Linked DNA regions of Homo sapiens: region 2 is linked to region 1. Evidence: fine-mapped expression QTL. A gene starts in region 1. The other region holds a variant in brackets. All regions are shown on one strand. Distances are between the middles of the regions.

Evidence for each region. PIP is the estimated chance that this variant, and not a neighbour inherited with it, causes the effect. A credible set is the group of variants that fine-mapping cannot tell apart.
Region 2: its variant is the best candidate, but not a certain one, in a credible set for the expression of FOXD3-AS1 in skeletal muscle (FUSION, PIP 0.84).

Annotation. Positions count from the first base shown.
Region 1 is chr1:63,321,184-63,326,561 of GRCh38, forward strand. FOXD3-AS1 (FOXD3 antisense RNA 1) reads right to left here and starts at 3,258. Exons shown (of 3, transcript NR_121637.1): 1 at 3,172-3,258; 2 at 184-280; 3 at 1-7. It overlaps FOXD3 (forkhead box D3), which reads left to right and starts at 1,384. Exons shown (of 1, transcript NM_012183.3): 1 at 1,384-3,945. The coding sequence starts at 1,876. The coding sequence ends at 3,312. RefSeq lists silencers at 992-1,301, 1,422-1,501 and an enhancer at 1,825-2,514.
Region 2 is chr1:63,096,445-63,101,822 of GRCh38, forward strand. No RefSeq gene overlaps it. Among named protein-coding and RNA genes, the nearest start is that of LINC01739, 87 kb to the left of the region's middle. The variant T/C (reference allele first, on the strand shown) is at 3,038.

The DNA of each region.
Region 1 (5,378 bases):
AGGCGGCCTAAATGAGGGAGGAAAGAGGAGGCGCATCGCTGATTCACCGCGTCAAGAGCACTGACTTTCCTTGGAGGTGTGAGGTCCACGCACCCCAGCCACGCACTTGGGGGTCGGTTTGCGGTGCCTCCCCCTCCAGTCCCAGTGAAATCCCCACAGTTTTTCCTACTATCACTGACTTGCCTTGCACTCCGCGTGCATTGGCCACACATCCTCGCCTCCTCCACCCGCTCCGCCGCCGGTTTTCTTGGAAGTTAAATCTTGGAGGATTTGTCCACACCTTAAGAGAAGAAAATCCACGTTAGCTGGCAGCAACGGAGATCCCAGCATGCTGGCATGCCCAAGTCTGCCCAGGTTCCCCCAAGGCCATGCCCGCCGCCCGGGAAGTCACTGCCCGCACCCCTCACGTTTCTTCAGCCGCCCCTGGGCGCTGCGTCTAACCTGAAGACACCAGGCCTCTTCCCGGATCCACTCGACTTACCCAGGCCGCTGCCAATCCCAGCTCCTTCCCCAGCGCCTCATTTCCGATTTTTTCATATGCTAAGTCGTTTAACAACTCCAAGTAGCCAGTTATGGCTTCTTTATTTATAGGTTCCCTGCTATTTTACGTCGTTTTTATTTCTCTCGGCAACTATTCTAGTAGATTAATCAATAGCCATTTTCTGACCTTCGGGAACCCCAGCTGATGCTTTTTGTGGCCGCACGAAAAAATACATACAGGAAAACACGCCCGCATCAAGCCGGGAAAGAGCAGGTAGGACCTGAGTGGTTTGGTTGGGGGAGGGGGAAAAAGACATCTCAGCAGGTGTCTTCCCCGGAATGAGCACTGAGGCCAGAGGGGAATCTGAAATCTAATTAGCAGGAGGGAGCCGGGTGCGCTGCTCTTACTCTTTAAAGCTAAAAACAATGAAACAAAAAGCAAAACAGAGACTAAGTTTTGCTTTTTAAAACACGATATGGGAACCTCGTTCTAGGTCGCCCAGTCCCTGTCTAAGGAGTGTGACAAAGTGGGGGGGAGAAGGGCGGAAGGGAGAGGGGGCGGGGAAGGCAGGGCAGCGACAGTCGCACAGTCCCGCGGACGCTCCCAGGCCCACGCCCTGACTCGCTCACACCCACCCACACTCACACCCACCCGCTCCCTGGGCCCCAGGGCCCGGATCCAGCCTGGGTGGGGGGGTCTCCGGGCGGGCCGCAGCGCCCTCCGTGCCCCGGGGATGCTGGCGCACAGTGCGGAGCGGAGTTGCGCGTCTCTCGTCCCTTTGTTGACAATTCCCTGAACCAACTTGAGTTTGGCCGGCTCGGCCGCGGCCCTGACGTCACGCACGGTCACGTGGCCCCGCCTCCCGCTGGATCTTTAAGTAGAAAGTAATCTATCAGGCCAGTCCTTAAAACGGGACTTTCGACTACCGGGGCTTCGGCGTCCCTGACACCCAGCCCCCTGCCCCCCCGCTACTGTCCCTGCCCGCGCCCTCCCGAGCTGCTCGGCGCCCGGCGTCCCGCGCCCGCCTGGACCGCTCCTGCGCCCCACGCCAGGGCCAGAGGCCGAGGAAGGCGGGCTAAGTGAGGGGGCGCGGCGTGGAGAACCGCCGGGGCCGGGAGCGGTAGCGAGCGCCTAGTACCGAGCGCCAGGGACGGCAGGAGTTCGCGGAGCGCGGCCGCTGGGGGCGGACGGCAGAGCCCGCGCCACGCGATGCGGGGCCGCCGAGTGTGAGCTGAGCCCAGCGGGCCCCAAGCCACCTGCGGCCCCCTCCCCTCTCCCTGCCCCCCATCTTTCGGGGGCACTCAAACCCTCTTCCCCTGAGCTCCGTGGCAGCCCCCGAACACCCTCATCGCCCGCTGCCCCCTCCCCGCCGCCGCTACCAACCCCGAGGAGGGATGACCCTCTCCGGCGGCGGCAGCGCCAGCGACATGTCCGGCCAGACGGTGCTGACGGCCGAGGACGTGGACATCGATGTGGTGGGCGAGGGCGACGACGGGCTGGAAGAGAAGGACAGCGACGCAGGTTGCGATAGCCCCGCGGGGCCGCCGGAGCTGCGCCTGGACGAGGCGGACGAGGTGCCCCCGGCGGCACCCCATCACGGACAGCCTCAGCCGCCCCACCAGCAGCCCCTGACATTGCCCAAGGAGGCGGCCGGAGCCGGGGCCGGACCGGGGGGCGACGTGGGCGCGCCGGAGGCGGACGGCTGCAAGGGCGGTGTTGGCGGCGAGGAGGGCGGCGCGAGCGGCGGCGGGCCTGGCGCGGGCAGCGGTTCGGCGGGAGGCCTGGCCCCGAGCAAGCCCAAGAACAGCCTAGTGAAGCCGCCTTACTCGTACATCGCGCTCATCACCATGGCCATCCTGCAGAGCCCGCAGAAGAAGCTGACCCTGAGCGGCATCTGCGAGTTCATCAGCAACCGCTTCCCCTACTACAGGGAGAAGTTCCCCGCCTGGCAGAACAGCATCCGCCACAACCTCTCACTCAACGACTGCTTCGTCAAGATCCCCCGCGAGCCGGGCAACCCGGGCAAGGGCAACTACTGGACCCTGGACCCGCAGTCCGAGGACATGTTCGACAACGGCAGCTTCCTGCGGCGCCGGAAACGCTTCAAGCGCCACCAGCAGGAGCACCTGCGCGAGCAGACGGCGCTCATGATGCAGAGCTTCGGCGCTTACAGCCTGGCGGCGGCGGCCGGCGCCGCGGGACCCTACGGCCGCCCCTACGGCCTGCACCCTGCGGCGGCGGCCGGTGCCTATTCGCACCCGGCAGCGGCGGCGGCCGCGGCTGCTGCGGCGGCGCTCCAGTACCCGTACGCGCTGCCGCCGGTGGCACCGGTGCTGCCTCCCGCTGTGCCGCTGCTGCCCTCGGGCGAGCTGGGCCGCAAAGCGGCCGCCTTCGGCTCACAGCTCGGCCCGGGCCTGCAGCTGCAGCTCAATAGCCTGGGCGCCGCCGCGGCCGCTGCGGGCACAGCGGGCGCCGCGGGCACCACCGCGTCGCTCATCAAGTCCGAGCCAAGCGCGCGGCCGTCGTTCAGCATCGAGAACATCATAGGTGGGGGCCCCGCGGCTCCTGGGGGCTCGGCGGTGGGCGCTGGGGTCGCCGGCGGCACTGGGGGTTCAGGGGGCGGCAGCACGGCGCAGTCGTTTCTGCGGCCACCCGGGACCGTGCAGTCGGCAGCGCTCATGGCCACCCACCAACCGCTGTCGCTGAGCCGGACGACTGCCACCATCGCGCCCATTCTTAGCGTGCCACTCTCCGGACAGTTTCTGCAGCCCGCAGCCTCGGCCGCCGCCGCTGCTGCGGCCGCCGCTCAAGCCAAATGGCCGGCGCAATAGGGACGCGCCAATGGCCGGGACCCAGGGTCCGGCGGCGGCCTCGAGCAACAAATGCACCTCCAGGCTGCGCGCCCTGTCCCAAGCCCGGTCCCGGTCCCGCTGCCCAATCCTGGACTCTGCCTCTCCCCAATTTCCTTTCCCCTGAGCCCCCAACGCCTACCTTCCGCGGCCTCCATCCCCTCGCGCACACCTAAGCTGGTCGAGCAAACTCACCGCGCGCCCGCCGGGGATAGCTTTCCATACAGGTAAAACCGAAAACCGAATTTTCCAAAAATGCACCCCGACGGCGCCTGCTCTTAGTACCGTGGGGATGGGAGGGAAATTCTTTGTATATATTTGTAAAAAAATTATTGACTTTCCTTTTGGGGTTTTTATTTTTTTAAGAAAAAACAAATTCCGTAGATTTAGAGCTCTGAACTTTCATTTTTTTTGAAGGTTCACTCTCCGAAGTTTTATCTGAGAAAAGAATGTATAGAGACGTTGGGAGATTTTAAATATAAAAAATTTTCAAAAAGGCAAAAAGTGTCATTCTATTATAAAAGTCTGTTTATATATGAATGAATATATATGGTATTCTAAATGTTATTCCATCGTGTTGTACACAACTTTGTAAATAAATTTTTAAAATGCCCAGCCTAGTGTTTTATTTAGTTGTCTGAAGTAAATGGCAAGATTTTTAAATGGTATTTATTTGCCTTTTCTCCTCCCCAGAAAATCAAGGAATTTCAAGTAATGGCCTTTTCAAACTTTTTAAATTCATAATTTGAGTGTAAGAAAATTTTAATTGGAGAAAGGAAATAGTATGCCTAATTTAAATTGTGTTACTATTTTTCTTTTAGTTTTCACATAAAATCAGGATGTGAGTGATATCATTCATATCAACCCATTAAATCTAAATGACCAGACATTTCTGTAGATAAAGTAAGCTGTCATTTAAAAAAAGAAACCGAAACAACAGCAGTCTTTAAATTTTTTTAAAAAATGACTAGACTTGTATCTTCCACAATGAAAACTTCCCAAATGAGAGAGTTCTTGGTCATTTCAATTATCCTTTGAAAAGTAAGTAAATTCCAAACATCCCTCTTTTTAACATTTAAATCTTAGATTTTTGAAATTATTTCTTTTCATTCCTTAAGTGGAAGTGGTAAATAGACCCAGCTGGTTTTAAAATTTATGTTAAGGCACTTTACATTTTGCAGTGGGATTTTATTTATGTTCATCTGATAGATAATACATAGTTTTGTTTTCATAATATTTTCAAATAAGATATCTCATTTATATGGCAATAATCAATCCACAACATAATTGGATTTCTGAAGGGGTCCTATAGATGCTTCCTCTCCCTCCAACCCAAAGCCTTTCTGAAGGCCAAGGAATGGTGGCCTTAATACCCTTTTAAAAACAGCTGAACATCACCTCTCTCCCCTTTTTTTTCTTTACCTTAGGCTAGGTTAGTGTGAAATGCGACATCATAGGGCAGGAATGGGGAAGGTCCTTGTAGATTATTTTTAATTTGCATTTCAGCTGTTAAAAACTTTTAAAAGAAAGTATGAAGGTAGAAATGAAACATCTTGATGTGGAAGGCTGGTTCTCACCACCATCAGCATATCCTCAAAAGGCATCAATTCTAATTATTTTGTAATTAATTTAGCTGTTACAATTACTTGTGCGAAATCGCTTTTAAAAACTGGAGCGAGTAGCAGTGCTGTCGGCTCGGCCCTGCGCGCGTCCTTTTGGTTAATCCCGGCCAGTCCCCGGTGTTGTCGTCCACTTTGCCTCCCTGGTGGTGGAGATGCCTCCCCGTCTCGGATCCCACCTCATTTCTCCGCTGTCGACGTGGGCTGGGGGTCGCTTTGAAAGACACTTCCTTGCAAATACCCAATCTGTTTTCCTGGTAAACGGTAAACATTATTGTGTCTTGAGTAAACATTCCTTCGGGATCAGGGTCCTAAAATAAAACAAGCTGCCGGGGGTGAGATAGTTTAACTTGATAAACAAGAACCTGATAACCACCGCCGAGAGAGGAGCAATGGTAACCTTCACCGAGAGGAGATTATGGACCACAC
Region 2 (5,378 bases), 220 kb before region 1:
AAGAAATGTCAAAGATTGCCAGCAACCATCTGAAGCTAAGAGAGCAGCAGGGAACAGATTCTCCCTCAGTGCCTTCCAAAGGAGCCAACCCTGTCAACACCTTGATTTCAAACTTCTAGCCTCCAGAATTATGAGACAATGGAATTTCTATTGTTTTAAGCCATCCAGTTTGTTGGACTTTGTTATGGCAGCCCTAGGATATGAAGACAATGACCGTTCCCAACACCCCACCTTCTTGCTACATCACTGATAGTAAAAATGTAACGTGGTCATTATTAAAGTATAGATTGTAACTTATAGTTAGTAGACTAATAGTCTGGAAGTGGAGACAGACATGTAAATATGGATTTCAACACAGCGTGGTAAGTGCCATGATGGAGGTGTGCACAGGCCTCTGTGGGTCACAGAGAAGGTCAGGGTTCAAGTACAGCTGTCCAGAGCAGTGCAGACAGTGCACTCAGGAAAACACAAATGAGTCCAGTTTGGCTGGAACGGATCATTCTGTGAAGGAGAAGAAAAGAGTGGAAAGAAAGGTGAAGCTCTGCTCATTGAAGGACTCTGAAAAATGGACATTGATATGGTGCTTTAGACTCACTCATCAAAGTATAGTCTGTGGACCAGTAGATCTGGCATTACTGGAAGCTTGCTAGAAATGCAGATGCCACTCTGGGAAACACTGTGTAGTGCCCTACTCCTTCAAGTGTGGTCCTGCAACCAGCAGCAGCAGCAGCAGCTGGAGGCTTGTGAGAAAGCCAGCCCCACTCCAGACCTGCCAAATCAGAATCTGCACTGGGCAACAGGATGCCCAGATGATTTGCTTATACACCAAAGGTGAGAAGCACCGTTCCAGGGCATATTAGCCCTCTGCTGAGCCATAATGAGAGGAAGTAAGTGGGTGAGAAGTTAGCTGAGGTGGGAGGTCTCAGAAGGTGGTGATACACTACGGCATGAGGGAACAGTATGAGCAAAGACATCGAGGTATAAAACAGCAGCTCAGTTTTATTGTACCAGGTACTGTGCTACATGCTTTCTATGCACTCATCTTTTGATCTCCATAGTCACCCGGTGTTTTTATTCCAACAGATGGAGGGGCAGAAAGGTGGATAACTGCTGGGTGCAGTGACTCATGCCTGTAATCCCAGCACTTTGGGAAGCCAAGGCAGGTGGATCACTTGAGCTGAGGAGTTCAAGAACAGCCTGGGCAACATGGGGAAACCCCATCTCTCCAAAAAATACAAAAGTTACCCGGGTGTGGTGATGTGCACCTGTAGTTCCAGCTACTTAGGAGGCTGAGGTGGGAGGATCATTGAGCCTGGGAATTGGAGGCTGCAGTGAGCCATGATTGCACCACTGCACTCCAGCCTGGGTGACACAGTGAGACACTGAGAAAGAAAGAAAGAAAGAAAGAAAGAAAGAAGAAAGAAAGAAGGAAAGAAAGAAAGAAAGAAACAAAGAAAGAAAGAAAGAAAGAGAAAAAGAAAGAAAGAAAGAAAGAAGGAAAAGAAGGATGGGGGAGGGGGGAGGGATAGCATGGAGAGATATACCTAATGCTAGATGATGAGTTAGTGGGTGCAGCGCACCAGCATGGCACATGTATACGTATGTAACTAACCTGCACAATGTGCACATGTACCCTAAAACTTAAAGTATAATAATAAAAAAAAAAGAAAGAAAAGAAGGAAGGAAGGAAAGATGGAAAGGAACGAAAGATGGAAAGGAAGGAAAGATGGAAAGAAACGAAAGGAGAATGACCAGCCCAGTGTCACTGGACACGAGGTGGGGATGTAAACTCAGGATTCCTCAACATCCTTCAAATACCCCAAGCCTTCATGCCTTGTGTAGCAGATTCCCTCTACAAGGAATTGCCTTCTTTATCTGTTAAATCTCATTCATTTTTCCAGATCCAGCTCCAAAAGTCACCTCCTGTGTGACCTCCTTCCCAGTTTCTCCCGTCGTTAGTTACATACTCTGTGATGATCCTGAACATCTCTTTCATACCACAATGATAGAATTTGTCATGGTCTGGCTTATTTGGTGCTCCCTCTGCTCTGTTCAACCCCAAATAGAAGGTGATGTTTTTGGAAGTGGAGGAGGCATGTCTCATTCATCTCAGTCTCCCTAGTGCCTAGTTTGGTGCTTCATGCCTAGTAAACACGAATATGGGTTTATTAAAGGTGGACGTGGGTGCCAACTCTGGCTGCATTCCTTACCAGCTATATGACCTTGAGCACATTCCTTAACCTTTCGAGCTTCAGTATTTGCATCTATGAAATGGTGATCATGAAACCTACTCATAAGGTTGATATGAGATATGTAAAAACGCCATGCACACTGCAGGGCACAGAGGAAGTGTGTGATAAATATCTTTTAAGGGATAGAATAAATGAGTAAGCTGACCTGGTGTAAAAGCAGATGGTAATAATAAACTACTACCTATAGAGTCTGTACCAGGCACTATTTAGGGTAAATTATGTACATTACCTCCCCATCCTTCAAATGCCACCTATTGTTATCATTATCATCATTTTATTTTAATAAGTAATTAAACTGAGTCCTATATAGGTTAAGAAGTTTCCTTAAGGTCAAAGAGAGAACCAGACTGGGACTCTGATCCAAGTGGGTCCAAAGTCTAAGCTGCTAGAAAAAAAAAAAAAAAACCCAAAAGGCTTGACAAAAGAACCTCCCCATTGATATAGTGGCCCATCCAAAGATCACACCACTGTACCTTTAACCTCCAGAGATAGAACTGTTTTATCAAATTTTTACCAAAACCTCGAAAAAATCTGAACACTTTTTAAATTAGATTCCTCAATACTAGAAAAATACAGCTGTTAGCAGTCACATGAGACCTGGCTGTTCTTCATGAAATACAAGCTGTGTTAATGGGAGGTATGTTAAAGCTGTTTGTTGCTGTACAGCACTGTGTGTATAACTAAAACAGTCAGGAGCTAGCTTCCCACGTTCAATGAAATGTTTACAGACAGACAAGTTAATAGGCATAAAAGCTATATCCAAAGCATGAGTGATATTCTTTTGA[T/C]GTCAGCTCCATGGAATCCTTCCTGTTACAGTAGTAAGAATTTTTTTAAGGAGATTATATTATAGAATCAGAAAGTGCTTTTCTTTACTGTATGCCATTCCTGTTTCTCAGTTATAAGGGAAATGAATTTAGAAGTTTAAAAAAATCAAATTATTTATCTTAGTGTTCCCTGAAGTTTGCAAACTGCTGAGCAATGTGGTGCTTTGCCCTACATTCTCCTCATTGAGTCTATCTGGGTAAATTAATTACAAGACAATTCTTAGGAATTAAGTGTATTTTAAGTTCAGAGGCATCTGCTTAGAGACTTCTAATACCGCTAAATAGTCCCTTTGGAAATGCACTCGTTAGTATGAGTGGTATAATTTTCATTTCCGCTGGCACCATGGCGTATGACTTCTTCAGTTTCAGCTACCCTCTGATTGACCTGCCAAGGGCATAAACCACTCTGAAGATGTTCCAGCACCATTTGTGCTTCTCCAGTAGGTATAAGAAACTGGATTGATTTGCTCTACATCAAGGAATAATTTAAAAGATAATTTTTCCTGGTTTTAATGTGGTACATTCTCTGTGTAAACACACACACACACACACACACACACACACACACACACACTAGCCTGAACTTATAATAAGCTTATTGGGCAATAGAACAAAACAAATAAACATTTTCTTAGATAACAGATATTATATATGTCCTAAGGACATGAATTAGGAAAAAATCCATGGTGTGATTAATCCATTATGTAAAATGAAAATGCATTTTTAAGTCGAATGCCAATAAGATGTTGGCAGGGAATGGAAGGGGGGGTACTTGGAACACAGAGAACTGAAATTTACATTTGGGATTCTTTCCTCCCCTCTGAAATGAGAATGTGGTGAGTTTTATCACTTGATTCTTGTGAATCTGCTGTGTTCTGGTTTGGAAGAATTCTGAATCAGGGTGATTTTAGGACAGCTGCTGTTTCCCAGGCTCAAAACAAATAGAAGCAGAGTGTGGCCAGCTCTCCATAATTCCCTCAGTTATCCTCGGCATGGCTCTGCAGGGGCATCCCTAGAAAGACACAGGAGAGCCACTCACCATTCAGCCACCCTGTCGACAGATCTAATTTGGAAAGATCAGGTGTAGAGAAAAGAAAACAGTTCTTCGAATAAAACAGAGGCCAAAAAAAAAAAAATGCATAAAATAATCAGAATTTTTAGATATACACAGAGCTGGCATTCAGTTACCTCCAGAAGCACAGTTGACCCTGTGGAATGTCATCAGGTCAATCACTTTCTGATAATGATAGTAAATGGACATTTATACAGAGCTTTAGTGTTTATAAAACATGTCTATATATGGTGTATATCATTTGGACCCAATAACAATCCCATGATGAAGGTTATTATTAGAACTATTAAGAACACAGTCTTTGGAGTCCTGAAAATTAGGTTAAAATCCTAGCCCTCAATGTACTAACTGGACCACCTTGGGAACTTACTTACCTTCTCTGATGCTGTAATAGGAATAAATGAGATCACATGGGGAAAACATTTTCCCAGTGCTTGACACTTGGTATGCTCACAATAACTGGTAGTAGTTGTTGTTGTTATTATCTACTATATTGTGTTGCCTGCTTCAGTGATTTCAAAAGCTCATTCTTTTCCAATCCAAAAATATATTTCTCAAAATGTGGCTTGGAAACCAGTTTCTGAACCTTCTTAAGCAAACATATGTATACGTTGAATGAATGAATGAATGAATGAATGGAAAGAATTCTAGCTCAGGATCAACCAGAAAAAGTATAATGCATTGGGAAGTATTCTATTCATTCAGCAAACATTTATGTCTGAACTTAGTATGGACCAGGAACTATCATAGGCCAGCACACTTAATCTTCTTAGCAATTCTATGAATTAGACATTGTCTTCTTTCACAGATTACAAAAACAATTAGTCCAATAACTTACTTAACTTGCATAGAGACACACAGCCACTACATGACAAAGCCTGGGGTTGAAACCGGGTCTTTGGATTCTTGGTCCAGTGCTTATTCTCAGCACCTTGGCCTCTTGATCCATCGCAAGGATGACACATCCTGTTCATTTCCACATGAGCAGCCTCCACATTGAGACACGATTTTTTTCTAAGCCTAATTCACTTGGCTATTCAGCATGACTCTTGGGTATATAAAGCTATGTCATATCTGATAACATAGTAAAAATGTTGATACAATTAATAAACCTTTATCTACAATATAGTGCAAATCATGGCATACAGAAAAAAATAAAGAGCTGACATGAACTCCCTCCATGATCCCCATTCTCATGCTTTCATACCAGCCACTCCCCACACCTTGCTT